Regions from separate parts of the Homo sapiens genome. Here all the other regions are linked to region 5. Evidence: fine-mapped expression QTL. A gene starts in region 5. Each other region holds a variant in brackets. All regions are shown on one strand. Distances are between the middles of the regions.

The links.
Region 1: its variant is fine-mapped to the expression of TATDN3 in whole blood (TOPMed, PIP above 0.99). The same link has a PIP of 0.9 or more in anterior cingulate cortex, atrial appendage, cerebral cortex, esophagus mucosa, fibroblasts and left ventricle.
Region 2: its variant is fine-mapped to the expression of TATDN3 in whole blood (TOPMed, PIP 0.97).
Region 3: its variant is fine-mapped to the expression of TATDN3 in whole blood (TOPMed, PIP 0.92).
Region 4: its variant is fine-mapped to the expression of TATDN3 in coronary artery (GTEx, PIP above 0.99).

The regions. Positions count from the first base shown.
Region 1 is chr1:212,808,983-212,815,166 of GRCh38, forward strand. It overlaps TATDN3 (TatD DNase domain containing 3), which reads left to right. Exons shown (of 10, transcript NM_001042552.3): 9 at 3,266-3,346; 10 at 6,031-6,184. The coding sequence ends at 6,174. Among named protein-coding and RNA genes, the nearest start is that of TATDN3, 20 kb to the left of the region's middle. The variant G/A (reference allele first, on the strand shown) is at 4,048.
Region 2 is chr1:212,901,804-212,908,062 of GRCh38, forward strand. No RefSeq gene overlaps it. Among named protein-coding and RNA genes, the nearest start is that of VASH2, 46 kb to the right of the region's middle. The variant A/T (reference allele first, on the strand shown) is at 3,036.
Region 3 is chr1:212,618,081-212,624,339 of GRCh38, forward strand. It overlaps ATF3 (activating transcription factor 3), which reads left to right. Exons shown (of 4, transcript NM_001674.4): 3 at 47-154; 4 at 1,278-2,695. The coding sequence ends at 1,475. Among named protein-coding and RNA genes, the nearest start is that of GARIN4, 3.3 kb to the right of the region's middle. RefSeq lists a silencer at 3,547-3,841. The variant G/C (reference allele first, on the strand shown) is at 2,870.
Region 4 is chr1:213,504,231-213,510,489 of GRCh38, forward strand. It overlaps a transcript of RPS6KC1 not described here. Among named protein-coding and RNA genes, the nearest start is that of LINC00538, 420 kb to the right of the region's middle. RefSeq lists an enhancer at 3,333-4,331. The variant T/G (reference allele first, on the strand shown) is at 3,486.
Region 5 is chr1:212,789,751-212,795,985 of GRCh38, forward strand. TATDN3 (TatD DNase domain containing 3) reads left to right here and starts at 2,144. Exons shown (of 10, transcript NM_001042552.3): 1 at 2,144-2,237; 2 at 5,345-5,377. The coding sequence starts at 2,172. NSL1 (NSL1 component of MIS12 kinetochore complex) reads right to left here and starts at 2,027. Exons shown (of 6, transcript NM_015471.4): 1 at 1,780-2,027. The coding sequence starts at 2,013. RefSeq lists enhancers at 700-1,478, 1,953-2,232, 4,367-4,867, 4,746-4,815, 5,156-5,205.

The sequences.
Region 1 (6,184 bases), 19 kb after region 5:
CTATATCCATATAATGGAATATAAAGTCATAAAAAGGAATGAAGAGGAATAAAGTCATGAAAAGAAATGAAGTACTGAGTCATGCTACAGCATGGATGAACCTTGAAAACATTATACTAAGAGAAAGCAACCAGACGAAAAACCACATCTTGTATTATTCCATTCATGTGAAATGTCCAGGTGAGGCAGATCTATAAACACAATATAGATTAGTGGTTTCCAGAATTTTGAGGGGAAGGATAATAGGGAGTGACAGCTAATGGGTATGGGATTTCTTTTTGGAGTGATGAAAATATTCCAGAACTAGATAATGGTGATGATTGTACAATTTTGTGAATATAGCAAAAAACACTGGATTGTGTACTTTTAAAGAGTGAATATTATGGTTATGTGAATTATAGCTTTAAAAATTAAAAACTAGGCCGGGCGCAGTGGCTTATGCCTGTAATCCCAGCACTTTGGGAGGCCGAGGCGGGCAGATCACGAGGTCAGGAGATCGAGACCATCCTGGCTAACACGGGGAAGCCCCGTCACTACTAAAAATACAAAAAATTAGCCAGGCATGGTGGTGGGCGCCTGTAGTCCCACCTACTCGGGAGACTGAGGCAGGAGAATGGCGTGAACCCGGGGGGGCAGAGCCTGCAGTGAGCCGAGATCGCGCCACTGCACTCCAGCCTGGGTGACAGAGCGAGACTCCGTCTCAAAAAAAAAAAAAAGAAAAAAGAAAACCATCCACAACCCAATCTAAAATTTAAATTGGGCTAGGCACTGTGGCTCACACCTGTAATCCCAGCACTTTCGGAGGTCAAAGCAGGCAGTTCACCTGAGGTTAGGAGTTCAAAACCAGCCTGGCCAACATGGTGAGACCCCTTCTCTACTAAAAATACAAAAATTAGCTGGGTGTGGTGGCGCATGCCTATAATCCCAGCTACTCAGGAGGCTGAGGCAGGAGAATCACTTGAACCCAGGAGGCAGATGTTGCAGTGAGCTGAGATCGCGCTTCTGCACTCCAGCCTGGGCGACAGAGACTCCATCTCAAAAATAAATACATTAATTAATAAAAAAATAAAATTTAAATTGCATAAGAACCTTAGATTTGGGCCAGGCACGGAGGCTCATATCTGTGACCTCAGCACTTTGGGAGGCCAAGGGTTGCGGATCACCTGAGCTCAAGAATTTGAGAACAGCCTAGGCAATATGGCGAAACCCTGTCTCTACAAAACATATAAAAATTAGCCGAGTGAAGGCAGGGCGCGGTGGCTCACGCATGTAATCCCAGCACTTTGGGAGGCCAAGGCGGGTGGATCACGACGTGGTCAGGAGATCAAGACCATCCTGGCTCACATGGTGAAACCCCGTCTCTACTAAAAATACAAAAAATTAGCCGGGCATGGTGGTGGGCGCCTGTAGTCCCAGCTACTTGGGAGGCTGAGGCAGGAGAATGGCGTGAACCCGGGAGGCGGAGCTTGCAGTGAGCCGAGATCGCGCCACTGCACGCCAGCCTGGGTGACAGAGCGAGACTCTGTCTCAAAAAAAAAAAAAAAAAAAAAAAAAATTAGCCGAGTGTGGTGGTGTGTGCCTATAGTCCCAACTACTTGGGAGGCTGAGGTGGGAGGATGTCTTCAGCCCAGGAGATGGAGGGTCCAGTGAGCCGAGTACGTGCCACTCCACTCCAACATGAGTGACAGAGCCAGACTGTGTCTCAAAAACAAACAAAACCCTTAGATTTATAAACATAAAGCTTTGAGTGCCTTAAAGTGGATGTTAGAAAGAAACACTGAATGTGATGAGGGTGGAGAAACAACAGAAATCACTTCCTTGTCAATGTCGGCACATGATACCAGATGTTTGGATTTCTGCTTGCTGGGTATACCTCATTTTTGCTATGGTTACTATTCTTTGGTTTCCCTAGAAGCTTTGGATAATTTTTAGGAATTAGTGTTTATATTTTAACATAACTTTTAGTAGTGGAATTATGAGAACATCCAGTTAGCATTTATCAATTGAATTGTTTTTTTGAAGCAGAGTCTCACTCTGTCGCCCAGGCTGGGGTGCAGTGATGTGATCTTGTCTCACTGCAATCTCCGCCTCCCAGGTCCAAGCAATTCTCCTGCCTCAGCCTTCCGAGTACCTGGGATTACAGGCGTGTACCACAATGCCTGGCTAATTTTTGTATTTTTTTTTTCCACTCTGGCTAGGCTGGAGTGCAGTGGCGCGATCTCAGCTCACTGCAACCTCTGCCTCCCGGGTTCAAGTGATTCTGCCTCAACCTCCCGAGTAGCTGGGATTACAGGCAGCCACCACTACGCCCGGCTAATTTTTGTATTTTTAGTAGAGACGGGGTTTCACCATGTTGGTCAGGCTGGTCTCGAACTTCCAATCTCAAGTGATCAGCCTGCCTTGGCCTCCCAAAGTGCTGGACAGGTATGAGCCACCACCCCGGCTTAATTTTTGTATTCTCAGTAGAGATGGGGTTTTATCATGTTGCCCAGGCTGGTCTCGAACTCCTGGTCTCAAGTGACCCACCCACCTCAGCCTCCCAAAGTACTGGGATTACAGGCGCGAGCTACCACAACCGGCCTATCAGTTGAATAGTAAAAAATAATTTTTTTTTGAGGCGGAGTCTCGCTCTGTTGCCCAGTCTGGAGTACAGTGGCGTGATCTCGGCTCACTGCAACCTTGCCTGGCTAATTTTTGTATTTGTATTTTTATTTTATTATTATTATTATTTTTTTTTTGAGATGGAGTCTTGCTCTGCTGCCCAGTCTGGAGTACAGTGGGGTGATCTCGGCTCACTGCAACCTCCACCTCCCGGGTTCAAGTGATTCTTCTTCCTCAGCCTCCTGAGTAGCTGGGATTACAGGTGCCTGCCACCATGCCTGGCTAATTTTTGTATTTTCAGTAGAGATGGGGTTTCACCATGTTGGCCAGGCTAGTCTTGAACTCCTGACCTTATGTTCTGTCTGCCTCGGCCTCCCAAAGTGCTGGGATTACAAGCATGAGCCACTGTGCCTGGCAATTTTTGTATTTTTAGCAGAGACGGGGTTTCACCATGTTGGTCAGGCTGGTCTTGAACTCCTGACCTCGTGATCCACCCGCCTCGGCCTCCCAAAGTGCTGGGATTACAGGCGTGAGCCACCGCGCCCAGCCTAAAGCATAAATTTTAAGTTATTGCAGAATAAAATGCATTATTAGTATGTCAATTTAATGCTCTTTATCTTTATTTCTCATGTTTTAAACTTAGCTGCTTTCTCTTTTCTCTAAGAAGCAGAAACTTGTGAAACAATTGCCTTTAACTTCTATATGCTTAGAAACAGATTCACCTGCACTAGGACCAGAAAAACAGGTAAATGGTTTTCTAATTTCTATATTATTTAGATTGTATCTTTCATTTGAGTTCTTTTCAATTTAGCTGTATTTCTCATTATAGTGTAAATACAGTGGAATCCTCATATACTGCCAGATTGAGGGCTTATATTAACTTTATTTCAGGTCTTTCTAAATATAGCTGTTGCACTCCAGAGAATATTATTTGATAATGAAGCATGTCCTAATGTATGTAATAATAAGAGTCAGACCAGTGTAGTAAAAAGCACAGTGTCTGCAGTCAGAAAGACAAATTCAAATCCTGTTATCTACCTAGTAGCTGACTTTGGGCAAGCTACTTAATCTCTCTGAAACTGCTTTTTCATTTATAAAATATGGGTAAAATAATAAATACATTAAAAGATTATGGTGGGCTGGGCACGGTGGCTCACACCTGTAATCCCAGCACTCTGGGAGGCCAAGGCGGGCAGATCACCTGAGGTCAGGAGTTCGAGACCAGCTTGACTAACATGGAGAAACCCTGTCTCTACTAAAAATACAAAAAAATTAGCTGGGCGTGGTGGCACATGCGCCTGTAATCGCAGCTACTCGGGAGGCTGAGGCAGGAGAATCGCTTGAACCCGGGAGGTGGAGGTTGCAGTGAGCCGAGATTGCACCATTGCACCCCAGCCTGGGCAACAAGAGCAAAACTCCATCTCAAAAAAAAAAGAAAAGATTATG[G/A]TAAGTATTACATGAAGTAACGTATGTGAACGTAACTAGCAGTATCTGGTATACAGTAGGTATTCAATGAGTGTTCATTTTTCTTCTTTTAATTAGCATGTTATAATGAAGTTCTATTTCTTTCAATACAAGTATTGATATAATCATGGGTTTATTTATATGATCTTTGCTGTTAGTATCTCTTTTTGTTATTGTAGGCCACAAAGAATCATATTTTAAATTTCACTCTCTTTCATATTGCTACTATTTTAAATTATAATTTTCTGAAAGTAAGCCACAGTATATGCTTTATTTGCTTTAGGCAGTACCTATTACAATGACCTCCCAATGTGCAGTTTAATAAGTGCCTTTGACTACCCATCAGATCTGTGTCTCTATGCCTGCCAAATTCAGAGAATTGGCACTCAAAATTTAGAGGTTTGGGAACAGTAGCAATTATTATCCGTTTATTCAGAAACTATGATTATATGTGATTGCAATGTGAATTTTACTAACTGATGTTCAATTAATGTTTCTATTTTTATTTTCTTTCTTTTCTTTTTTTTTTTTTTTTTGAGACAGGGTCTACTCTGTCACCCAAGCTATAGTGCAGTGGCGTGATCACAGCAACCTCGACTTTCTGGGTTCAGATGATTCTCCATCAGGCATGTGCTACCATGCCTGGCTACTTGTTTTTGTTTTTGTTTTTGTTTTGTTTTTGAGACAGAGTCTTGCTCTGTCGCCCAGGCTGGAGTGCAGTGGCGCAATCTCAGCTCACTGCAACTTCCGCCTTCTGGATTCAAGCAATTCTCCTGCCTCAGCCTCCCTAGTAGCTGGGATTACAGGCTTGTGCCACCACGCCCGGCTGATTTTTGTATTTTTAGTGCACATATATTTCATAAAAACAGGATTAACTTGGACATATTATTTTATAACTGATCTTTATGTGGTAAACCTCTGTATATATATTTTTTTTGTTAATTTTTTTTTTAATAGAGACAAGGTCTCACTATGTTGCCCAGGCTGGTCTCAAACTCCTAAGCTCAAGTGATCCTCCCACCTCGGCCTTCCTAAGTGCTAAGATTACAGGTGTAAGCCACTGCACCTGGCTGAACCTCTGTATATATTAATAAACATACTTTTCTTCATCATGTTTAATAACTGCATAATATTCCAGTATGTGAGTTTACCATATTTAACTTGCTATTGGTCATCTAGATTGTATTATAAACAACATGATTAACATAAATCTCTATGCCCATTTTTAATTTTTTTGGGCTACATTACCAAAGTGCATTTTAAAAATTTTAACAATAATGTTATTCTTCTGAACATTATCATCCTGAGTAGATACTTATTGATAGTAACAATAATAATTTATTTCATAAAATCTAAATGCTACTGATTGTAGAGGCACCATTGTTTACCATTGTTTTATGACCATTAAGAAAGAAAAAACACTGCCAGTTATACTATGAAATACCACTGAATCTAAATGAAATATACTGTATCAATTTCAGAGATGTTAAAATAGGAGAGGAAATGCATCTTAGAATCAGTGAAATGCCAGTACATAATCTATTTCATCTTTCCAATACATGTTGGCAATTCTTGAATCAAACTGTCATGTAGCCTGTGAGGTAGGCGGCCAAGCAGCAGAGCAGTGACCTTTTACAAGCATTCACCTAAGCAACAAACCAAAGGACAATTAATCCATTAGTCAGGCAGGTTACCAGGTGTTCACTGTTTGCAGACTGCTTCATGTGCTAGGAGCTAGGGACTTCAATTGTAAATACCCCAGGGTTCTTTTCAGGAGCAGCACAGATTTACAATCAACATTGCAGCCACACCTCCCTCCCAGCCCTCATCCCCACCTAAAAAGAAAAAAATTAAAAAGGAGCCCATCAGTTGTTTTTACCAACTCATTTTCTTCTATCTATAGTCTCCAAGGATCTGCTTCCCTTCAGTGTCATGTTTGACATGGTGTCTGCTGTCTTGTTTCAGGTACGGAATGAGCCCTGGAACATTTCTATTTCAGCAGAATATATTGCCCAGGTGAAAGGGATCTCAGTGGAAGAAGTTATAGAAGTGACGACACAGAATGCATTAAAACTGTTTCCTAAGCTCCGACACTTGCTCCAGAAATAGCTTCAAAACC
Region 2 (6,259 bases), 110 kb after region 5:
ATATTCTAATACTGCAGTGGTTATGTGTAAATCATTTTAACTCGTGTATAGGCTAAAATAAAAATATTAAAAATAACTAGCTTTGGTAATTCATTAATTGATACACAATATAAAAGGATGAATATTGTGACAGCAAAAGCATAAAATGGCGTATAAAAGTGTAGAGTTTTTGTGTGTGAACAAAGTTAAGTTGCTATCAGCTTAAAATAGACAATAAGATGTTTTATGTAAGCCTGTTTTAACCACAAAGCAGAAACCCGTAGTAGACACACACAGATAAAGAGAAAGGGATCTAAGTATACTACTAAGGAAAATCATCTAATCACAAAAGACAGCAAGAGAGGAAGAAAAGGACAAAGGATCTTTAAAACCGCCAGAAAACAACAAAATGCCTGTAAGTTCTTACCTGTCAATAATTACTTTAAATGTAAATGGGTTAAATTATCCAATCATAGACATAGATTGGCTAAATGGATTTAAAAACCAAACTGTATGCTGCTTACCAGAGTCACTTTAGCTTTAAAGATATACATAGGCCGTAAAGGGATGGAAAGAGAGAATCCATACAAATGGAAACAGAAATAGAGCAGGGTAGCTTTATTTATTTATTTATTTTTGAGACAGAGTCTCACTCCACCCAGGCTGGAGTGTAGTGGCATGATCTCAGCTCACTGCAACCTCCACCTCCTGGGTTCTTGTGATTCTCATGCTTCATCCTCCCAAGTAGTGGGGATTACAGGTGTGCACCACCACACCCATCTAATTTTTGTATTTTTAGGAAATGGAGTTTCACTGTGTTGGCCAGGCTGGTCCTGAATGCCTGACCTCAGGTGATCTGCCTGCCTTGGCCTCCCAAATGTTGGGATTACAGTTGTGAGCCACTGCACCTGGCCAGGGTAGCTATATTTAAATCAGACAAAATGGACTTTAAGTAAAAACTTTGGCCAGGCATGGTGGCTCACGCCTGTAATCCCAGCACTTTGGGAGGCCAAGGCAGGTGGGTTACCTGAGGTCAGGAGTTCGAGACCAGCCTGACCAATATGGTGAAACCCCATCTCTACTAAAAATACAAAAATTAGCTGGGCGTGGTGGCAGACGCCTGTAATCCCAGTTACTCAGGAGGCTGAGGCAGGAGAATCGCTTGAGCCTGGGAAACAGAGGTTGCAGTGAGCTGAGATCGTGCAACTGCACTCCAGCCTGGCCAACAGAGTGAGACTCTTGTCAAAAAACAAACAAAAAAAACACCTAAAAAACTTTAACAAGGGACAAAGAAGACTATTATATAATGATAATGGAGTCAATTTTTTTTTTTTTTTTTTTTGAGACAGAGTCTCGCTCTGTCGCCAGGCTGGAGTGCAGTGGTGTGATCTCGGCTCACTGCAACCTCCGCCTCCCAGGTTCAAGCAATTCCCCCTGCCTCAGCCTCCCAAGTAGCCAGTACTATAGGCCTGCACCACCATGGCCAGCTAATTTTTTGTATTTTAGTAGAGACGGGGTTTCACCACATTGGCCAGGATGGTCTCGATCTCCTGACCTCATGATCCGCCCACCTTGGCCTCCCAAAGTGCTGGGATTACAGACATGAGCCACTGTGCCTGGCCTTAATGGGGTCAATTATTTAAGAGGATCCAACAAGTTGTGTGTGCATGTGTGTGTGTGTGCCAACAGTGGACTACCTAAAATTATGCAAAGCAAATATTAACAGATCTGAAAGGAGAAATAGCAGTAGAATTAATAGGGGATTTCAGTACCCCACTTGCAACAATTGATAGAACATCCAGCCAAAATCAATAAGGAAACATTGGATTTGAATTACACCTTAGACCACATGGACTTAATGGACATATATTGAATATTCCATCCAATAGCAACAGAGTACACATTTTCCTCAAGTACACATGGAACATTCTCCAGGATGGGTCATATGTTAGGCCCAAAAGAATGTCTTTAAAATACATTTAAATAAGAAATACAATTGAAATAATCATATATTCCTTAAGACATAATATCATATTAAGCAACTTCTCTGATGCTTACAATGATAGGAAATTACACAATTACATATTATTTCACAATGATATGAAATTACCCACCAATAGAAAGAAAACTGGAAAATTCAAAAATATGTAGAAATTAAACAACAGATTCTGAACAACTAGTGAGTCGAAGAAATCAAACAGGAAATCAAAAAATATTTTGGGACAAATGAAAATAGAAATACTTTCTATTTCCATTACCATATCAAAACTGATGGAATGCAGCAAAAACAGTTCAAGGAGGGAAATTATAACAATAAATGGCCACATGAAGAAATATCTTAAATAAATCACCTAACTTTACACCTGAAGGAACTAGACAAAGAAGAACAAATTAAGCCCAAAATTAGTAGAAGGAAGTAAATGACAAAGATGAGAACAGAAATAAATGAAATATAGACTAGAAAAATAATAGAAAAGATCAGTGAAACTAGGAGTTGTATTTTTTGAAAAGAAAAACAAAATTGATGAACCTTAGAGTAAGAAAAAGAGAAGTCTCAAATGAAATTGTAAATGAAAGAGGAGATATTACAACTGATACCACAGAAATACAAAGAATCATGAGACTATTATGAACAATTGTACTTCAACAAACTGGATAACCTAGAAATTGATAAATTTCTATAAACATACAACCTACCAAGACTGAGTCATGAAGAGATAGAAAATCTGAGTATACCAATAACAAGTAAGTAGATTGTATCAGTAATCAAAAATTGTCCGTAGAAGAAAAACCAAAGTCCCAGTGGCTTCACTGGTGAATTCTACCACACATTCAAAGAAAATAATACTAGTCCTTCTTAAAGTGTTCCATAAAATTTCAGAGGACGAACACTTCCAAACTAATTGTCAGCATTACCCTGATACCAAAACCAGTCAAGGACATTATAGAAAATAAAATTACAGGCCAGTATCCCTGATCCTCCACAAAATACTAGCAAACCAAATTTAACAACACATTAAAAGGATCATACACTATGATCAAATGGGATTTATCCC[A/T]GGGATATAAGGATGGTTCAACATATACAATTCAATAAATGTGATATACTATAAGGGTAAAAATTATATAGTCACCTCAATAGATGCAGAAAAAGTATTTGACAAAATTCAACACCCTTTCATGATAAAACCTCAAAAAAAAAAAAAGACATAGAAGGAGCTTAACCTCAACACAATAAAGATCATTTATGAAAAGCCCACAGCTAACATTATACTCAATGGTGAAAAAGCTGAAATCTCTTCCTCTAAGATCCAGAACAAGGCAAGGAGGTCCACTCTTACCACTTCTATTTAGTAGGACTGGAAGTTCTAACATGAGTAATTAGATAAGAAAAAGAAATAAAAGGCATCCAGACCTGAAAGGAAGAATTAAAATTGTGTGCAGATAACATGATCTTATGTATAAAAATCTCTAGAGATTCTATGAAAAAACATTTAAAAATAAATTCAGGAAAGTTGCTGGATACAAAATCAACATATGAAAACAGTTGCATTTCTATATACTAATGAACTATCTGAAAAACTAAGCAAAAAATTTCATTTACAATAAGATCAAAAAGAATAAAGTACTCAGAAATAAGTTTAATCAAGGAGGTGAAAAATCTGTACAATGAAAACTATAATGCATTGATGCAAGAAATTGAAGACAAATTAATGGGAAGATATCCCAAGTACATGGATCAGAAGAATCAATATTGTCAAAATGTCCAACTACCCAAAGCAACCTTAAGATTAAACACAATTTCTCTCAAAATTCCAATCGCATTTTTCATAAAAATAGAACAATCTTAAAATTTGTGTGGAACCTCAAGAGAACTTGAATAGCTAAAGCAAACTTGAGAAAGATCAAAGTTGTATCACACTTCCTGATTTCAAATTATATTACAAAGTTACTGTAATCAAAACGGCATGATACTCTCATAAAAACAAACTAGGCCAATGGAACAGAAAGCCCAGAAATAAACTCATACATACACTGTCAATTAATCTGTGACAAGAATACACAATGTGGAAGGGATAGTCTTCAATAGATACTGTTGGGAAACCTGGATAACCACATGCAAAAAAAAAAAAAAAATGAAATTGGATTCTTATCTTACATCATACACAAACATCAACTCAAATGGATTAAAGACAGGGCAGGTGTGGTGGCTCATGCCTGTAATCCCAGCACTTTGGGAGGCCGTGGTGGAAGGATCACTTGAGTTAGGAGTTTGAGGACAGCTTGGGCAACATAGTAAGACCTCGCCTCTACCAAAAAAAATTTAAAAATTAGCCAGGTATGGTGGCACACGCCTGTGGTCTCAGCTACTCAGGAAAGCTGAGTTGGAAGAATCTCATGAGCCCAGGAGGTTGAAGCTGCAGTAAGCCGAGATTGCACCACTGCACTCCAGCCTGAGTGACAGAATGAGACCTTATCTCAATAACAACAACAACAACAACAAAGACTTAAATATAAGACCTGAAATCATAAAATGTAAGGAGGAAACATAGGCATTGATGAGCAATGATTTTTTTTTAATATGACACCAAAAACAGAGACAGCAAAAGCAAACATAAACAAGTGGGACTAAACTTTTAGCGTAGAACAGCAATTTTGCCCGCCACCACTTTTGCACCATCATTGCAAATGTCAACATAGTGAAAAAGGTATATAACTTCTTTGTATTATTATGAAAAGAGTTTGGACATTATGGATTCCCTGAAAAGGGTCTTGCTTCTAGAAAGGAGAAACTGGCTATCACTACATTGATCAATGATTCACAATGCCAGAATATGGAGAGAATAAAGAGTAAGGGAGGATCAAGGATCAAAGGCCTCTAATTAAAGGAGGTAGGTGGAACATAAAGAGTTAGTGGAGACAAAGAAGGAGCCTAAGGGAAAGACAGGCAGAAGATTTAGGGTGGTTTTATTAATGAGACCAAAGAGAAGAGAATTGGTAGCTGCAAAGCAAGATACTACCTCTGTGTAAACGAAGAGTTATAAAAAGCTGCTACTACCATCTGTTGTCATGCCATTTAAATTATAATTAGTATGATATTTCAGGATAAAGTTTCCAGCATTATTTAGTTTTACAAACAGCTAAATATTTGAGGCAAAAGCCATGAAACTGTTTAAAATATAAAATAATAACATGGCATTTTATCTGTTACCGGCTACCCTATAAGAAATAGGAACTTTAAAATCTAAGACCTTTCTCAGATCCCATTCAGAATCACTAAAATTTACATTTAGATTTTCAGTGGGAAAAACTACTTCCATCCAGAAAAAAAGATACTCTTTATTTTCAATAGCAGGCGAAGAAATCTAGGTAAGTAACACATTTCTGAAGTCACCTCTTTCCTGTAAGCCACCTGTTAGTGTCAGCTTCTTGTCCTCACCACACTGCCCCTCACTTTCTGCAGGAAGAGTTGGTCAAACTAATAGGTGACATCCCGCCCTGAAGTAATTTCAGGGCCCTTGACAGGATCCCATGCCTGGAAGATGCCTTTATGACCTTTCACCGGAGATACGATATTTTTGGGTCCCTAAAGAGAGAGAAGGTTTCAAAGCACACCAGACTACCAAGAGGGAATATCTCATCTTAAGTCTGATGGCTGTCCTGCAAGCAGGTTTGAATAGGAGGGAGGAGGAGATGGGGCTTGGAGGCCCTATAGCCTTGAGAAAGGAGAAAAGGACGGCACAGGAGAGAAATTTAGAAAGGACTCATTAAAATAAGACATATGAGCCTCATTTTCCATTTCGACAAGTGACGTATTAAGCCTTTGTTTTATCTTGTTATATGTACCCATTTGCACTTTTCCCTTTATCTTGATTATTTTAACCCGTGGGCGAAATGGTAACTGTAAAGAGAACAACCTGGCGGAAACCAGTGGAAACTTGATTTCTGGTTGGAGCCCATAGGTTTCGGTTGACAAATGCTGCTTGAGCATACCTCTCATTCCCATAATGAGGAAAACATTTGATTCTTCCAGGGATGAACTGGCCCCAAACTCCCTGAGATAAAATGATAAATTAGATTTTTATAAAGTTTCATAATGCATAAAAATTAAAATGAGGCTGAAATAGGACTGACAGTGCTTTCTTTTTCAGTGAAAAGGCTGAATCCTTCAAAACATACTTTGACCCCAAACCAAGACGGACAAGATCTGGGTCATTCCAGCTAGGGCAGAATTTGTCCATGGCCAGAGCTTTCTATTGTGTCATCAGGAGCTCAGAATTTA
Region 3 (6,259 bases), 170 kb before region 5:
GGCATTTCTTACTGCCCTTTAAATGTGTTTCTTTTGGATTTTACAGGTAGCCCCTGAAGAAGATGAAAGGAAAAAGAGGCGACGAGAAAGAAATAAGATTGCAGCTGCAAAGTGCCGAAACAAGAAGAAGGAGAAGACGGAGTGCCTGCAGAAAGTGAGTGCCTTCTAGCCTTACCCTTCCTCTCGCTCACGCCTGTCTTCACCAGCTTCATGTGGCTATCAGAAGAAGAGTTAGAAAACCCCCTACTTGGTTATAGTTTCCCAAGAAGGGCCTTGTAGCTGGTAGCAGAAATGCCAGTTGCAGAATGAGGAGGTGGCAAAGCAGTTAACACAATGGATGTGACGGTGGATGTATAAAAACAGGTGTGTGAATTCGTCTGATGCCTGACTCCCAGCAGCCTCGGCCGGTTCATACATGTCCATCAGCTTCCAGGCTGCAGGACATGCCAGCCCAGTTAAAGAGGCTTCACTTGACTGTTTTCCTGAGAAAAGGAAGCTGCCAGCTCTCATTTGGCTCACTATGAAAAGCCTTTAATTAATCTCTTCAAACAAGTTATTTCCTTAATCCACAAGCAGTGGTTACACTTGCTTTGCATTCTTGTCTGGTTCCTAACTCTAGAGCCCTTCTCCCTGGCTTAGCCAGTAAGCTGAGCCCCTGGCTGCGTTCAGCCGGCCCGCCTGAGAGACACTAGGGGAAATAGCTTTTGTGGGCAAGCAGGGTGGCCGGTGGTGCTCAGCAGTCTTTCCAGTGGCTGTGTCCCTCCTCCAAATGTGGACAGGCCATGACAGAGTCTTAGCCCAAGTCCCACAGATCCCCAAAAGTTCTGTTGATTGCTTCAGGGGATCAGTGAAAATTAGGGAATTTTGTGTGTTGCTATATACATTTTTTCTGGGGAGATGAGCTTCTCATTGAGATCTGTGACTCAGAATCGACTAAGCCACCATAAGTCTGGATTTCTCCCCAGCTCCCAAGGCCCTTTTGGGTCCAGAAGACCTGCATATGGGCTGTTGACTCATGCAAATGAGGTATCTGAACTGCAGCTTCAGTATTAGCAGAGCCACAGGCCGCCTCTGTGGCATCACCAGGGTTTCTCTGAAGAAGAGGGTCTGCATTTTCCTAAACCCAGTGCTGCTCTCCCATCTCCCATCTTCCTCTCGCAGCTTGATGAGCCCCGGTGTGTCCCAGGTACACCCCTGCATCCAGGCAGCAGCCCAGGCCACCCCCTCCTCACTGGCCCTTGGCTCCTTTCTTGATGCCTCTGTTGCTTGTCCCCCAGGAGTCGGAGAAGCTGGAAAGTGTGAATGCTGAACTGAAGGCTCAGATTGAGGAGCTCAAGAACGAGAAGCAGCATTTGATATACATGCTCAACCTTCATCGGCCCACGTGTATTGTCCGGGCTCAGAATGGGAGGACTCCAGAAGATGAGAGAAACCTCTTTATCCAACAGATAAAAGAAGGAACATTGCAGAGCTAAGCAGTCGTGGTATGGGGGCGACTGGGGAGTCCTCATTGAATCCTCATTTTATACCCAAAACCCTGAAGCCATTGGAGAGCTGTCTTCCTGTGTACCTCTAGAATCCCAGCAGCAGAGAACCATCAAGGCGGGAGGGCCTGCAGTGATTCAGCAGGCCCTTCCCATTCTGCCCCAGAGTGGGTCTTGGACCAGGGCAAGTGCATCTTTGCCTCAACTCCAGGATTTAGGCCTTAACACACTGGCCATTCTTATGTTCCAGATGGCCCCCAGCTGGTGTCCTGCCCGCCTTTCATCTGGATTCTACAAAAAACCAGGATGCCCACCGTTAGGATTCAGGCAGCAGTGTCTGTACCTCGGGTGGGAGGGATGGGGCCATCTCCTTCACCGTGGCTACCATTGTCACTCGTAGGGGATGTGGAGTGAGAACAGCATTTAGTGAAGTTGTGCAACGGCCAGGGTTGTGCTTTCTAGCAAATATGCTGTTATGTCCAGAAATTGTGTGTGCAAGAAAACTAGGCAATGTACTCTTCCGATGTTTGTGTCACACAACACTGATGTGACTTTTATATGCTTTTTCTCAGATCTGGTTTCTAAGAGTTTTGGGGGGCGGGGCTGTCACCACGTGCAGTATCTCAAGATATTCAGGTGGCCAGAAGAGCTTGTCAGCAAGAGGAGGACAGAATTCTCCCAGCGTTAACACAAAATCCATGGGCAGTATGATGGCAGGTCCTCTGTTGCAAACTCAGTTCCAAAGTCACAGGAAGAAAGCAGAAAGTTCAACTTCCAAAGGGTTAGGACTCTCCACTCAATGTCTTAGGTCAGGAGTTGTGTCTAGGCTGGAAGAGCCAAAGAATATTCCATTTTCCTTTCCTTGTGGTTGAAAACCACAGTCAGTGGAGAGATGTTTGGAAACCACAGTCAGTGGAGCCTGGGTGGTACCCAGGCTTTAGCATTATTGGATGTCAATAGCATTGTTTTTGTCATGTAGCTGTTTTAAGAAATCTGGCCCAGGGTGTTTGCAGCTGTGAGAAGTCACTCACACTGGCCACAAGGACGCTGGCTACTGTCTATTAAAATTCTGATGTTTCTGTGAAATTCTCAGAGTGTTTAATTGTACTCAATGGTATCATTACAATTTTCTGTAAGAGAAAATATTACTTATTTATCCTAGTATTCCTAACCTGTCAGAATAATAAATATTGGAACCAAGACATGGTAAACATGTGTTGTGCTGGTTTCTGTTCATTTAAATCTGTCGGTTGCTGAGACCTAGCGATTCCCTGCCTTTCCCTCCCCATTATGGGGGGTGCCTAGCTTTAAACTTCTCCAGATGTCATCCTTTGCTCTTTGGGGCATCACTAGATGGGATAGTTGGCTTTCAGTCCTGTTCCTCA[G/C]TCTTGGGCACCTGATGCTCAATTTTTCATTGACAAACCCTGAAACATGGCACCAAATATATCCTTTAGATCAACAGTTTGGTGTTTAGAATTTTGATGTACAACTGAATTGCTAGATACCTTAATTATTTTCTCTGAATGTACAAACACCTAAAACATACACCTGTTGTTCAGCTTGAACCTTTGACCCCTAACATTCTGCCACAGAACTCGTCTCAGAGAGTTACTCACTTGAGTTACATCTGTTTCATGTCTAAACGTGTGTCTCATTGTTGCAAATACATATCAGAAAAGAATGGGAAGGGGTACCGGAGGAAGAAAGAACCATTTTAGACAGCATGGGTGTGATAATTCAAAGAAAGACATTCCACTGAATTTCCTGGAATTTCCAGGGCGTATGATTCCTTTGGCCTGCAAGAGAGCCAGGCCCCCTTGCTTTTTGTGCTTCTCTATAACATTCACAGGCTAGACATAAAAACTGGCCACTCGCCGCTGGTGCCATTCTTCAGAGAAGAATGTCTTCGTTAAATGTCAGATTCGTACACATGAATTCTGTGCCTACTTCTTTGACCTCATGTATGTTTCCTTTAAATGATCACTTAAGACACAGGTGTCTTCATTTTACTCTCTGAATTGCACATCAGGGGTCTTTCCTAATCCATCAAGAGCCATCTGATGTTAATACCATTCAGCACTTCTTTCAGGGGATAATTTATGTTCCTTTTCTTGGTGGAGGGGAAAACATCCCTTGCATTTACCTTCTAGTTATGGGTAGAGGCACCAGCCACCAGCCATTATGAAACGCAAGACAATTTGTAAGCTGCCAGGAACAACAATGGATTAGAGAGGAAGGAAGTTGGGGGCGGATGGTGGCTATGGCAAGAAAACTTGATGTGTATGGTAAGTGTAAATGAAGGTCTATCACAAATGCATTAAAAATTGTTTTATGTAGCCAAGTTTATGTTTTGATACTTTAATTTTAAAAAGGATGATGACTATGCATTTACCATCAAGGCATTTAGTTTCTTTTGTTTCACATTTAGAGGAAAGGGAAGGTGGGGGGATCTGAGAGAATAAACTTAGATGGGGCCACCACCAATATCAAGCACCCGGTTTGGCAGTGTCTGCACTGAGCTGTCTCCTGTTGGTAGTGGTGATGTCACACTGCCAGGGTGTGGAAAGCCACCCTCCCTCCTCTCTCTTGCCTTCCACCTGCCCCTTTGGCTTTCCCTGAGAGCTGGCCTGACACCTGTTTCAGAGTCAAGAGCTTTTAAAGGGTTCTGGCCCAGGACAGGAGTTCTGGAATGGAATCTTTCCACTTTCTGTTAACTAAAATACTATTTTCCATCTGTATCCTAATTTCTCCCCATGGGCTTTGAATAAACCCTCAACACTCCAACCCATATCAAGCTTTCTCCTCTCTTCCCTGTCCCGTAACCTCTGGTTGGGTTCATGTACTGTTTCTTTGTGGCGTGAACAGCGTTTCCAATTAGAATCTGCCTGAAAGGAGGTCCCATTTGCCCACTGAGCATCCTGTGTTCTCATGGTGGCTCTAACTCCAGAAGATTTTAACACAGTCTCATCAAACACTGCTTTCAGGGAGGAATTTACACTGAGGTTAAAAGGACTGTTGAGGACTAATGCTAACAGAAGCTAACATTTATTGCGTAGGACAATACACTAAACACTTCACATGTATTATCCCATTTAATCCTCACAACAACTGCTACCCCCATTTTACAGATGAGGGAGTGGAGAGCTCAGTAACTTGCTCGAGGTCTCACAGTGGATCTTTCCAAAGCTGAAGCCTATGCTTGTTTTCAACAGCAATGATTTCAAACAAGAGTATATACATTTGTGTGTGTGTGCGTGGTAAGATATACAAAAAATTTGCCATTGTAACTATTTTGAAGTGTACAATTCAGTGCCATTAAGTACATTCACAATGCAGTGTAACCATTACTATCTAGTTCCAGAACTTTTTCACTGTCCCCAAAGGAAATCCTGTACCCATTAAGGAGTCACTCTTCATTCCCCTTCCTTCCAGTCTCTGGCAACCACTAATCTGTCTTCTGTTTCTATGGACTTGCCTGCGCTGGATATTTTATGTAAATAGCATCATACAATATGTGGCCTTTCGCACAATACGGCTGGCTTCTTTCACTTAGCATAATGTTTTCAAGTGTCAGCCTAGCGTATTATGTAATAGTACCTTATTTCTCTTTATGGCTGAATAGTATTCTGTTGTATGGATACTATACTTTTTGTTTATCCATTCATCAGTTGATAGACAGGTGTGTGTATGTTAAGAAACAGCTAGCCTTTATCTTCAAGAACTGAATCTCTAAGGTAGGATTTCAGGCCTGATGTCAAGCTGGGAGAAAAGAGAGTTGGAAGCAGGTGCTCCTTTTCAGGACTTCCAGGTAACAGCTTGGAAATTACTTATTCCTGGGCTCGCTCTGTGGGCATGGCAAGGCAGGAGGTATAGTAGCACCTGTTCCCCATGGATGTAAATGGCTTCCAAAGTACTTCTGCATAGTAGAGAGGTTAGTAGAGGAGGGCCTTTGATAGGCTCCTGGAATGTAAGCTCACACTTTCCATCCTACCCTCTTCTCCCGGCATTTCACAGGGTAGGGGGTAAGAAGAGGCACGGGGCAAACACTGGGGGCCTTGAGAAAATATTTGGGCTCCCTGACACAGGATGTTGGTATAAACATGATGGAGGAGAAATAGAGGTGGCCCCTTGGATAATTTAATCCCCCACTCAGCCCAGCCCCTTTCTGAAGTGGTTGTCCTGGATTCTCCATAACATGCATGCATACACACACACACACACACACACACACACAGAATTAATTATGCAACTTATTTGGCTTGCCCAAGCTTTTTTTGTAAGTTCTGTAGTGGTTCAGAAGGAAGATTTTAAAAGCAGCAAGACCTGTATTCAAATAATACCTCCACTGCCTACGAGTTCTACAAATGCAGGTATGTTTCACAACTTCAGGTTTTTTTTACCTGTAAGATGAGAAGCGTTGCAATAGTATCAAACTGGAATGGAGTTTGATACATAGTATGGCGCCTAGAAGAAGCAATCTCTCATGTTATTATTAAAGGTTGAGGTTATTACTAAAGATTTCCATTGTCAGCATGAACTGAGATTTTATGGAAGAGTGGGCTAAGAACCAAGACTGCGAATTCTAGGTTAAAAAAAAATTTAAACCGTGTACTCAAATGGTTCAAATTTATCCCATCATCTTGCGTTCCTGTAGACTCTGCCTAGTTGCTGAATCTTTTGAATTTGGGGTGAGGAAGGGGAAGCAACCACACATTTTCTCATTTGAAAAATTTTTATTTTGGCACCCACTTGAGTACCTGGCACGGTGGGGCTGT
Region 4 (6,259 bases), 710 kb after region 5:
GTCAAGTAGTTAACTGATTATATTTCTTTCTCAAATAGAGTTTTGTTTTTCTTTGAGTTTATAATTGCTTTTTTTGCATTGTCTGTCTTAATCTTATCCTTACAATTTTTTTTAACTTCTCAAACATGATATCAAATATATGGAATTCCTTTTTTATTGTGATTCCTCTCTTCTGGTGTTGTGTTTCCTACTGTCTTATCCAGATGTATTGTTCTCTATGTGCCATGGTTGCTATTCTGGGCTTTACTTCACTTTTGGCTCATACCCAGTGTTTTCTAAATCCCAGGCCTTTCCCTTGTGTTATTCTTTTGTTTTGCTGGAGCACATCCTCAAGTAATTGCCTAGTACAGGGTGTGGGAGATAAACTTTTAGAGTCTGCACATCTGAAAATGTAACACTTACTTAACAGTTTAACTGGGTATTAAATTCAATTTCCCTCAGAATTTTGAAAAGTATTATCTTTTCTATTATTTTGTATCATTTAGTGTTGCTTTTGGAAAATTTGATGCCAGTTTTATTCTTATTTCTTTGTGGGCAACTTGTTTTTTTCCCCTCTCTCTGGAAGCTTCTAGAATCTTCTAATAATCTTTAGAGATCTGCAAAAATGAGTATCTAACATAAAATTTCTTATTTAGGAAAGGAGGGGAGGTGCCCTTTTCCCATTGTAACTTGTCTGATATGATGCATAGCATCCATCTGCTTTGTGATGTTTACCTCATTCCTAATCCTATGAATCAGAGTTAGGGCCAAAGCCACTAAGTTCCCCACAACCCCCATCTATGGGACCCAAGATCTGGGTCACTGGAGTCTATCAATGAAAGCCCAGTGTTTGTCACTTACCTAGCCTGTGGGGCTTCGTTTCCCTTCACCCTGTCACTGTACGATATCCACTTCCACTTACCCCAAGTATCCCCTGAGATCCTATTCTATGTTCCATGAATGCACCTCACTCTCTCCAATTCAGGACTGATTCCAGCTATAGTCAGGCTCTTTCAGTTTCAGGGAGAAAAAAAGAACCACCCAGACTACCGTGGGCAGAGGGAGGTGGGTAGGTCTGAGGATTCTTGTGTGTTAGAACTGAATCTCTGGCCAAAGGACCTCTTGAATGTGTTATTTCCCTATCATAGGACACACAACCTCTCTTTGATGGTGCCTGTGCTGCCTTAGGGCCAGATTGTCTGGATTCGAATCCCAGCCCTACCACGTGCCAGCTATATGACCTTGGGCAAGCTGCTTAATCTCTCTGTGCCTCTGTTTTCTGATGTGGAAAATGGGGATAATAACAGAACTTCAGGTTTTTGTTGTGAGGATTGAGTTAACACATATAACAGATTGAGCACACTGGCTGACACATCGTAAGTGCTCAACAGCAATATCTAACATGCCAGCATGTACACAGCATTTACCATGGGCCAGATGCTGTTAGAGGTGGAGGAACCAGCCCAAGGTAACACTGCTAGGAAAAGGACAGGCTGGGGTTCAGACCTGGGCAGGGTTCAAGAGCCTGGGTTCATGCTCTTGACCACTTCACTCTACAGTTGTTTTGGTTTCTCTACCTCATATTTCCTGCCTTCTATCTAACTGTGACTTGTTTTGATCATTCGTGGTCCTTATCTACTTCATGGCTTCTCTCTTTATGCATGTTTTCTGTCTCTGGCTTCACTATCAAGTGCCTGATTTTTCTTAAAGGGAGAGAGAGTGAGAGAGAGAGACTCAGTTTCTGTTTTGTGTCAGGCCATCCTGTAGCTTATTGGCTGTCATCTGCATTTGTTTGTTGTCCTTGGATCAGGTGCCCACACTTCTATCCAGCTGGAGCCAGAGTGGGGTAGAGAGTTGCTACTTCAACAGTAACTGTGACTGGGGTAAATTCTCTCAGAAGGGGCTCTGAGGGCAAGATGGTGCCATGCTTGATGGGGACCATCTTGTACTACAGTATAGACTCTTGGCATTGCTGTCCTTTCTTCTGAAAATGAGTCTCCTACTTTTGTACCTGGTTTTGAATTGGTAAGTAACGAGATGAAGGAGATGGATTTTGTGCATGGAAGAATGCTGATAATGGTCTTTAAAATTTCAGGATGTGGTTGTGATGGAAACTAAATTTTAGGGCGACACCCATACCAGATGAGATTAGTTATTTGCAGAAGCAACACCATGTTTTAATAGATTGGAGATGCCATGATTGTCCAAACTCTCTCACTAAGTATCAGACTGTATTCTCAGAAAGACAGGTTTGACATTAAATAACAATCATTGAAAGTTCATTTAACTTTTCACTCAGTTACTCATTCAACATCTATGGGTCACCCACCAGGTCTAGCAGAGGGTGGAAGATGACCCCTATGACTTGTGCATGTGAGTCACTAAAAAAGGAGTGAGAATATAAACGCCTCTCTGTTTTTACTCAACCCAGTCAATCCAGGAGATAGAGAAAGAGACAGAGATGGAGGGAGATCTGAATATCAATGTATCAATGTCTGGTAATTATTCTTGACCATCAATATGATGATTCTTAATTAGCTAGCTAGTTATGTGGTTTTGATGCTATAACTCAACGACATTGTGGCCTTAGATCAGTCCCTTATATTTAAAAAGGAATAATAATTCCTGGGGGATTTTAAAAGAATTAGTGATAATAGATGTCTGGCTTGGTGCCTGAGTGCTATTACTTTTAGGCAGCATTTTCCCTGGAGTGGAAAGTGGCAATTCATCCCATTCCTTTTGCTCTTACTTTATGTTCATTAAGCAACTTTCTGACACATAATTTGCTCCTCTGAGGCAATTATTCCAGGAGAGAGTGTTCTGAATGACCAATGTGAATGATTCTGTAAGATGTATCTCCCCTAGTAAATTGATAAATCAATGAACGTATCAGCATTCTGGTTGGCAAATTAGGCTCCTGCTAATTTGGTTACATGAGTAACTTCCACAAGTACAACCTATTCCAAGTGAACAGGTTCAGTCACATTTTAGGATCCCCACATTTGAGGACTCGAGTGGCAGCTAACACTTGCCAGGTACTACCAACCCGCAGGGCCAACCTGAGCACGCAACCTGCCTGGCTCTGGCACTCCTACCTGAAAAGGGACCATTGTGTTGGCAGCGCAGGGTGGGGGGCTGAAATAGAGAGACCCTGGGAGCAGATGCCCAGGTTAGGCCTCTTGCAGTTGACCTGGGTAGAGGTAAAACTGGCCTGAACTCAGGTGGTAGCAAGAGGCATGGAAAGAAGGAAAAGGACAGATGCAAAGAAAGTGGCGCAAATTGGAGATAGTTTAGCAGCATAACTTTATACAGTCTGAGATGATTCAGGTCAACCCTCTCATTTTTTTTTTTTTTTTTAACCTGTGAAGCATGAAACTTATCAGGTGCCTGTGGTCCCATCCACCGCTCAGAGCCCTGGTGGACACACTGCATTGCGGGCCTCCGGAATGGTTCTATTACAGCATTGAGTGTTTTGATCAAACACATTGCACAATAGCTGTCTCAAG[T/G]ATGCCCAGGCATGGCTTGAGCTATGGATACATATGCTGAGTGTATTAATCAAGTTTAATAGACCCCAGTGTCTGAAACAATGCCTTAAATTCTTTTTTCAGAAACTGCACAGAAGTGCAGCATTGTACAGCAAATAAAAGTGTTGCTACAATGCCTGTAAATCAGAGCTTTAAACTATGTTTCAATTATCCTTCTATTATCCAGCTGGTATTTAAGCATGTTTATTATTCAAATCAGCAGCGAATGTGCTGCTGTTGTGTAAACAACTGTCAATTGCTGAAACAATGATTAGGAGGCACCATCCCTTTCAGGTGTACTTAGCGGTACTTATACCCCAGCCACTTGTATTTAAATATCATGTAAACACAATGCTTGAGTGACTACTTTCACTCCTGTTCCCAATGCCTCATGCCAATTCTATTACATTAAGAGGGAAATCTATTAAATTTTTCATTGATACACATCCGTACACTGTTTTTACCCATTGTATCATTAAGGCTTGGATTAATATAATAGATATGCTGAGAGATACAGTGTGCATTGAAAAAGCCTGTTCAAAATGAAAGCCAATTTCTCTGCATTATTTGGGGGTGTTGGAAGGCTTTTGTGAAAACAATGCAAAGAAAATGATTTTCTGAATAAAAAGCATGACATGGAGAAAAGAAAAATTTGGCCCCCAGAAAGAGCATCTTGAACCTTTATTAGCTCCATTACCAATTCAGCACAGAAAAAAGTGGAGAGCCAGAAAATAGGACATTTGTAAAATGAAGCTGTGTTGCTTTTGAAAGTTCTCTGCCATCACCAGTAAGGGGTTTGTGTGTGTGTGTGTATGTGTGTGTGTTGGGACTGGAGTTTGTGGGTGATGGTTGCTGGGCAGAGCTTGAATTTGCTTCTAGGCTATGCTCCCAATAAGTTTTTCCTTTTTTTCTTAAGCCTCAATTTCCACATATAACCCAGGAAGACAATATTTTAAGTACAGTAGTTTTGTAAATAGTGAGGAATCATTATCTGGTCAAATGATTGACACCACCAGGGTTTTCATGTTAACCTGAGGTGTGTCTTTTGGGGGCTCAATAAATTGTTGTTGATTGGTCTCAGTTGCTAATCTGCAAATGGTATCTACTGTGTTTAGCAGGTGGATGCTGGAGAGAAAAGGGCAATGGCAGGATCTTGACTTGAGATTAGAACTTCTAACTCGGTGAATTCATGGATAGTGGCTTGAGTACATAGTAGAACCTCCCAGGTGGGTTGTAAAAAAGCTGTGCCTCATCCTTGGAGGTGATGTCATGATGTCCAAAATACTGCCTTCTAATTGATTTTGAAATACAACAAATTCCAGTTCTTTAGAATCTATAATATGTAGGGTGACCATGTAATTTATCACACAATTTGGGACATTTTGGTAGTAAGGTGTATTTAATAATTATGCTGGGACATCAGATGTAAACCAGCACTGTCCTGGGCAAGCCAGTACATACGATCACCCTAAAATCACATGGCTAAAGACCAAATCTGGGTATTAAGGCAAGGAAGGAGAATGAAAAACTAGCCCCTTGGGGGTTCTGTCTTTACCTGTCTTTTGAGGTTGGTCATTGCTTTATCTTTAAAGAAAGAGAGTTGATCCTTTTTTTTTTTCTTCTAAGAATTAGAATCCAGAAAGGCAAATAAATTCCACTTTTATAAAATACTATAAGCGGAAATTCATTTGTACATATTAAATTAGTAAATGGTCGTTCAATTTTCAAAATAATTATTCTGTAATGAAAAGGCTTCCCTGACTCCTAGCTGGCAACCTGTTTTTGTATGGGATTTAATTTCTTCAAGGCTTACCTAGAGGGTGTCTGTTGAACAAATGCGAAGTCTTTACACTTCACATAACTTTAATTTCTTAGCAGCGACTTGGGCTCAGTCAACAGAGTCAAATAATGACTCTTGGAATGTACACATGTAGAATTGAACCAAGAAATGCCAATTCTTAGGTATCAAAGGGTAAGCAGTACCTTCATTAATACATTTTATAATGTTCTCCCCTGCAGCAGACACAAACTTTAATGCTAGCATATGAAAATAATTTTCGTGTGTTAGATAACCAGTTTTTATACCAGTATCCTGTGATTCTTGCAGCCATTTTTATCTCTTTTATTATGTCCATAGATGTATCTCTTTTATTGAAGCACATGCTCTGAATTTCTTTTTCATTGAATGAAGATGAATGTCAGTAAGTTTATACATTTATCAAACAGCAAGATATCTGGTCTCTTTCCCATCTGGGCAGACTGATTCTCACAGCTCTGTCTCCAGTATCTTTGATTGCCTGTTTTCTAACAACTTCTTGGGTTCCTACCTACAATAGGGTGCTAATTCATTTACTGGAGGACTAATTGCTGAGGGGATGGTGGAAGAGCATCATTGTGCCTTTTCATGTAATGCACAGCAGCCAAAGTAGGGGCCTGCTTCAATTGCATGCTCTGTTGTCTCCTAAGCCCCAGGCATTACCTGTGCCTGTCCTTAAATAAGTTTTCCTCCATTATGTACTTGTAATTCCTGGTACCAATCACCAGATCCGGAGTACTTCCAGTAAGCCCTTCAGTGTCCCCAAATGCCTGACTTCTTTTATCCAAAAGTTAGATCCACTTTTATCTTTGTCATTTAAGCTCATCTGATGGAGGTTAAGTACTGTGTAGTTTGTTTTTGTTGTTGATAAAACACTGATAGAGTTTCCATGGAGGTATACTCTATACCCCCTAACTTCATATTGTGAAACTCCAGGCAG
Region 5 (6,235 bases):
GTCCCACTAAATAGGATATAATAGGTTAAGCCAAGTTCCTCTTTTTCTGTAAGACACCTAAATGTTTTAAATACCTTAGCATTTCCTAGAATCAGACAAATTCTAAGATTATACAACAAAAGTCTTCTCCCAAAAAACTACTAAAAACGTCCTGAGATATATCCCTATTCTTGCCTTGCTTGCAAGGAGGGAATGACGTAAGAGTCACTATATACAAAACTACATACAGAGTCACAACCCAGGAAGTGTTTCTTCATTCTTCCACTGAACCTTTTTTTTTTGAGATGGAGTCTCGCTCTGTCACCCAGGCTGGAGTGCAGTGGCGAGATCTGGGCTCACTGCAAGCTCCGCCTCCCGGGTTCACGCCATTCTCCTGCCTCAGCCTCCCGAGTAGCTGGGACTACAGGTGCCTGCCACCATGGCCGGCTAATTTTTTGTATTATTATTATTATTGTTTTAGTAGAGACGGGGTTTCACCATGTTAGCCAGGATGGTCTCGATCTCCTGACCTCGTGATCCGCCCGCCTCGGCCTCCCAAAGTGCTGGGATTACAGGCGTGAGCCACCGCGCCCGACCCCTTTTGCCTGTTTTAGAGTGAAAACATTTTCTTTACAAGACTAAAATAGGTTAAAAAAAATTGTGTTGGTTGAAAACTTTACTAAGATCATACATTTGCCTCTATACCACATTTCCCAAGCCTTTCTTAAATATTTTTGCAAAGCCCTGAAGGTGGTAGTTTTTTGGGAACACAAGAAATAAAGGGATTGTGTGCTTCCTTATAACAGGCACCAATCTACTTATATTAGCGGAAAAAATTTAAAAGCTCATAATACCGCACATTTGTGAGTTATGAATGACCACAGTGCAAACAGTAAAAATAAAGGTTAATAGGCCGGGCGAGGTGGCTCACGCCTGTAATACCAGCACTTTGGGAGCCCAAGGCGGGCGGATCACGAGGTCAGGAGATCGAGACCATGCTGGCTAACACGGTGAAACCCTGTCTCTACTAAAAACACAAAAAAATTAGCCGGGCGTGGTGGCAGGCGCCTGGAGTCCCAGCTACTCAGGAGGCTGAGGCAGGAGAATGGCGTGAACCCAGGAGGCGGAGCTTGCAGTGAGCCGAGATCGCGCCACTGCACTCCAGCCTGGGCGACAGAGCGAGACTCTGTCTCAAAAAAAAAAAATAAAATAAAATAAATAAATAAATAAAACATGCAAAAGGAAAGATCAAATGCTGCTTGGGTGAATGGCTGACTTCCAGAATTACCCTTTCCAGGAGAATTCCTCATTGTCTGCGGCTGCATTGTCCAACAGGTGAGCCACTAGCCACTTTGTAGTTACTGAGCGCTTAAATGTAACTAGTTCGAAGATGTGCCGTAAATGCAGCACACCAGATTTGAAAAGCTTAGTACGAACAAAAGAATGTAAAATATCTCATTCATTTGATATTATTACATGTTAAAATACCTTGGATTTATTGGGTTAAACAAAATGTCTTATTTCCATTAACTTCACCTATTTCTTACTTTTAGTTTAAAACTACATAAAGATTAGCTTGCCTTGTATTTTCACTGGACAGCGCTGGTCTAAGTAATTAATAAGACCCAGCTGACATTAGCATCTATTTCTTTCTCCTCTAGCGTTTCTCGAACTGGTTCTACAGTAGCCTGGGGCACCGTTAATTCTGCCAAGGCCTGGCGTGGGATCTTTCTGAATCCTAAGATCCTGGGTGTTGGGTAAGAGGATGATGAGTAAAGAACTGGCTAACTGGTCCCGTACCCACTGCGCATCTCGCAGAGCGGGCTCCCGAATCTCCTCCGGCAGAGCGTCCCCGAGCTTTTGCACGAAGCGGCCGCACAGTTGTAGCATTTCGGTCACAGCCCGCTTCGAGGTGCAGCGCACCCGAAAGTCTTCTCGGGGAGTGGCGGAGACCAAGGCCTGGCTCTCTGTGCCAGCCGCGAGCTCCTTGTCCCATGGAGGGTCAAGGACCACCAACTCAGGAGACCCCGCCATTTTTCGTCGGAACTGTGGGCGGGGCACTCTGGGAGCGGAAAAGCGGGTTCACACTGGTGTAACCAGCATGCATCCGGCTGGAAACTCAGGACGCTGCAGCTGAAACGTTCCGGCTCCGGCTCTGCTGGCCGGTCTAAAGCGGCAGCCGCCGGGGCGCAATGCGAGCGGCTGGCGTAGGCTTGGTGGACTGTCACTGCCACCTCTCCGCCCCGGACTTTGACCGCGTATGTGAGGGCGATACGGGACCAGAGGGAGCAGGGAGGCCCCCGTCCTTTCCCCTCGTGTTATCTTTGCTCTCCTCCCTTGGGACGAAACCCCATATCCCCCGCCCAGACCCTTGTTTATGGCCATATGACCTTGCCCCTCATTTCCCTATTCCCTATTTAACCTCAGACATACCGATTTTTTTTTCCTGATTCAGTAGCGGTAAGCTATCTCCACAAGGCTTTTGTTTGCTCTTCTGAGTTCCTGGAATCGTTCCCTCACTCCCCTTGGCTGGCCTGTTTTTCCCCTCGGGGCTCTCACCTCCTGGCTGAGATGCCACTCTTTGTGGGAAGCGGTCCTCGAAACGCGTTCAAATCGGGGAGAGGTCGGGCGCGGGCTCACGCCCGTAATCCCAGCACTTTGGGAGGCCGAGGCGGGCGCTGCGCATCTCCTGTGTCCAGGAGATCGTGACCAGCCTGGGCAACATGGTGAAACCTCGTCCCTACAAAAAAAAAAAAAAAGCCGGTGATTGTGGCGTTTGCCTGTGGTCCCAGCTACTCGGGAGGCTGAGGTGGGAGAATCGCTGGAGCCCAGGAGGTGGAGGTTGCAGTGAGCTGACATCAAGCCACTGCACTCCAGCCTGGGTAACAGTGAGACCCTGTCTCAAAAAAAAAAAAAAAAAAAAATTCACAAATGGGGGAGAGAGGCAAACAAACAAACAAAAATACATGGCCGAGTGTGGTTGCTCACACTTGTAATCCTAGCACTATGAGAGGCCGAAGTGGGTGGATCGCTTGAGCCCAGGAGTTTGAGACCAGCCTGGGCAATGTGGTGAGACCCCGTCTCAATTAAAATAATAATACACACGTAAAATCAGTTACAAACTGTTTTACCCATTACGTGGGAAACTAGAGACTAATAATAGAGGATTAAGGGGGGTTTTATTTCAGGGGGAAATCCTCCCAGGAGCTGACACTTAAGGCTGAAAAGACAAGGAGCCACCCAAGCAAGGGGGTGAGTGTATGCTGGTTAGGGAAACAGATAGGTTGCAGGCCCCCAGACAAGCTAGAATTTGGCACATTTCAGTTGCCAAAAAGCTAAGTGGAGCCTGATGAGCTAGAAAGAGAAAGGCATGAAACAAAACTGGGGAGGTTTGCAGGGGATAGATGAGGTGGGTCAGTAAGGAATTTGGATTGCATTTGAAGCACAATGCAGATTCATTAAAGGGCTTTTTTAAAATTTATTTTCATTTTTTTATTTTTTTAGATTGAGTCTGGCTGTGTCCCTCAGGCTGAAATGCAATAGCATGATCTCAGGTCATTGCAACCTCCACCTCCTGGGCTCAAAAAATTCTCCTGTCTCAGCCTCCCAAGTAGCTGGGATCACAGGTGTGTCCCACCACGCCTGGCTAATTTTTTGTATTTTTAATAGAGACAGAGTTTTGCCATGTTGTCCAGGCTGGTCTTGAACTTCTGGCCTCAAGTGATCAACCCTCCTTGGCCTCCCAAAGTCCTGGGATTACACAAAAATGGATAGGCATGATGCTATCCATTTTAACACCATTTTGCTGCTGTATGGCAAATGGGTGGAGGAGAAGAGTGGAAGCTACAAGACTAGTTAGGAGGCTTTTGCAGTATATAGGCAAGAGATGTTGGCTGTTGGTACTATGATGATAGCAGGTGAGTTTGAGATGAATACATGGATTCAAGATACATTTTAGAGAGAGAATCCACAGTAAGTACTGAAGAATTGGATGTGGATAGCAAGGGAAAGGGAGGAGTCAAGGATGACTCAGATTATTAGCTTGTGCTATAGGGAAGATGGTGGTGCTGGTTTACTGAGATAAGGGAAGACCAAGGTCTGAGGTGGAGGTGGGGAGGTCAGCAGAAGGAATAGGTTTGTGGGGAGAAAATAAAGATTTATGTTTGGGGCATATTGGGAAACCTAATCCCATCCAAATGAAGATGTCATAATTTTTAAACATGAGTCATGGGCTCAGGAGAGAATTACAAGCTAAAGATAAAAATTGGGGGCCGGGCGCAGTGGCTCATGCCTGTAATCTCAGCACTTTGGGAGGCCGAGGTGGGCAGATCATAAGGTTAGGAGATCGAGACCATCCTGGCTAACATGGTGAAACCCTGTCGCTACTAAAAGTACAAAAAAATTAGCTGGGCATGGCAGCATGTGCCTGTAGTCCCAGCTACTTGGGAGGCTGAGGCAGGAGAATGGTGTGAACCCGGGAGGCGGAGCTTGCAGTGAGCCGAGATCGTGACACTGCACTCCAGCCTGGGTGACAGAGCGAGACTCCATCTCAAAAAAAAAAAAAAAAATTGGGGACTCAGGCTGGGTTCGATGGCTCACACCTGTAGTCCCAGCACTTTGGGAGGCCAAGGTGGGTGGGTCACCTGAGATCAGGAGTTAAAGACCAGCTTGGCCAACATGGTGAAACACCATCTCTACTAAAAATACAAAATTTAGCTGAGTGTGGTGGCGGTCACCTGTAATCCCAGCTACTCTGGAGGCTGAAGCAGGAGAATCACTTGAACCCGGGTGGCAGAGGTGGCAATGAGCCGAGATCGCACCATTGCACTACAGCTGGGAGACAAGAGTGAAACTTCATCTCAAAAAAAAGAAAAAAAATGGGGGCCTCAGCATAATGATGATAAAACCATGAGAGGAAGTGAAATCACTCAAGGCAAGTGCAGAGAGAGGAGCAGATGTTCTTGAAGTCTGAAAGAGGAAGGGGAGCTAGTCAAGGAGACTGACAAGTAGCCACCAATGAGAGAGTGGTATTGCAGAAGTGAAGGGTGGAAAGCATTTCAAGAAGGAAGGAGTAAGCAAGTGAGGGATTCCGAATGCTGCTGAGGAGTAGAGTAAGATGAGGACAGAGAAATACCCTGTATATTTGACAATAGAGGCTTCTGTTTTAGTGCTGGGAACAGTAGCCAGACTTTACTGATAGTAAGAGTAAACAGGAAGTGGGTCAGTGTAGGCTCTTTGTTTTCCACCACTCCATTAGTTGCTATCATTGTTATTTTTTGTGATGCCACAACTACATTGACATATACAGTCCAAGATTAGCTGCTTATTCATCTAAAATAATGGTGATTTCTTATGCTTGTTTTAGGATTTGGATGATGTGTTGGAGAAAGCCAAGAAGGTAAGTCAATATTTGTAATTGCTCTTTTGGTTTTTTATTTTAACTATCATTTCAAGCCAAAACAGCTTGAAATTTAGATATACTACCTTGATGTTTCAGTAGTTTATAGTAAGTAGCATTTTTTATTTTTATTATTTTATTTATTTATTTATTTATTTATTGAGACAGAGTCTCGCTCTGTCGCCCAGGCTGGAGTGCAGTCGTGTGATCTTAGCTCACTGCAACCTCTGCCTCCAAGGTTCAAGTGATTCTCCTGCCTCAGCCTCCTGAGTAGCTGGGACTATAGGCACACGTCACTGCACCCAGATAATTTTTGTATTTTTAGTAGAGACAGGGTTTCACCATGTTGGCCAGGCTGGTCTTGAACTCCTGACCTGAGGTGATCTGCCCACCTCGACCTCCCAAAGTGCTGAGATTGCAGGCGTGACCCACTACGACCAGCCAATTTTTATTATTTATAATTAAAATAGAGACAAGATCTGACTATATTGCCCAGGCTGGTGTCAAACTTCTGAGCTCAAGCAATCTACCCACCTTGGGCTCCCAAAATGCTGGGATTATAGGCATGCGGCACTGCTCCCAGCCTAAGTAGCATTTATTAAGTGTTTGCTACATGCCAGGTAGTGAGCTAAGGCCTTTCTCGACTTTACCTCATTCAATGTTTCACAATAGCCTTCTGAGGAAATTACTAATTTATAGCCAATCATTCCCCATTTTTATAGATGAGGAATCTAAGGCCTAGAGATGAGTAACTGGTCCAAAGACACATGCTAGTGAACTGATAGAGACAAGTTAGTCTGAATTCAAAACATGTTCCTATAGCTACCATGCTCAACAGCCCTATGGAACAAATTGGTC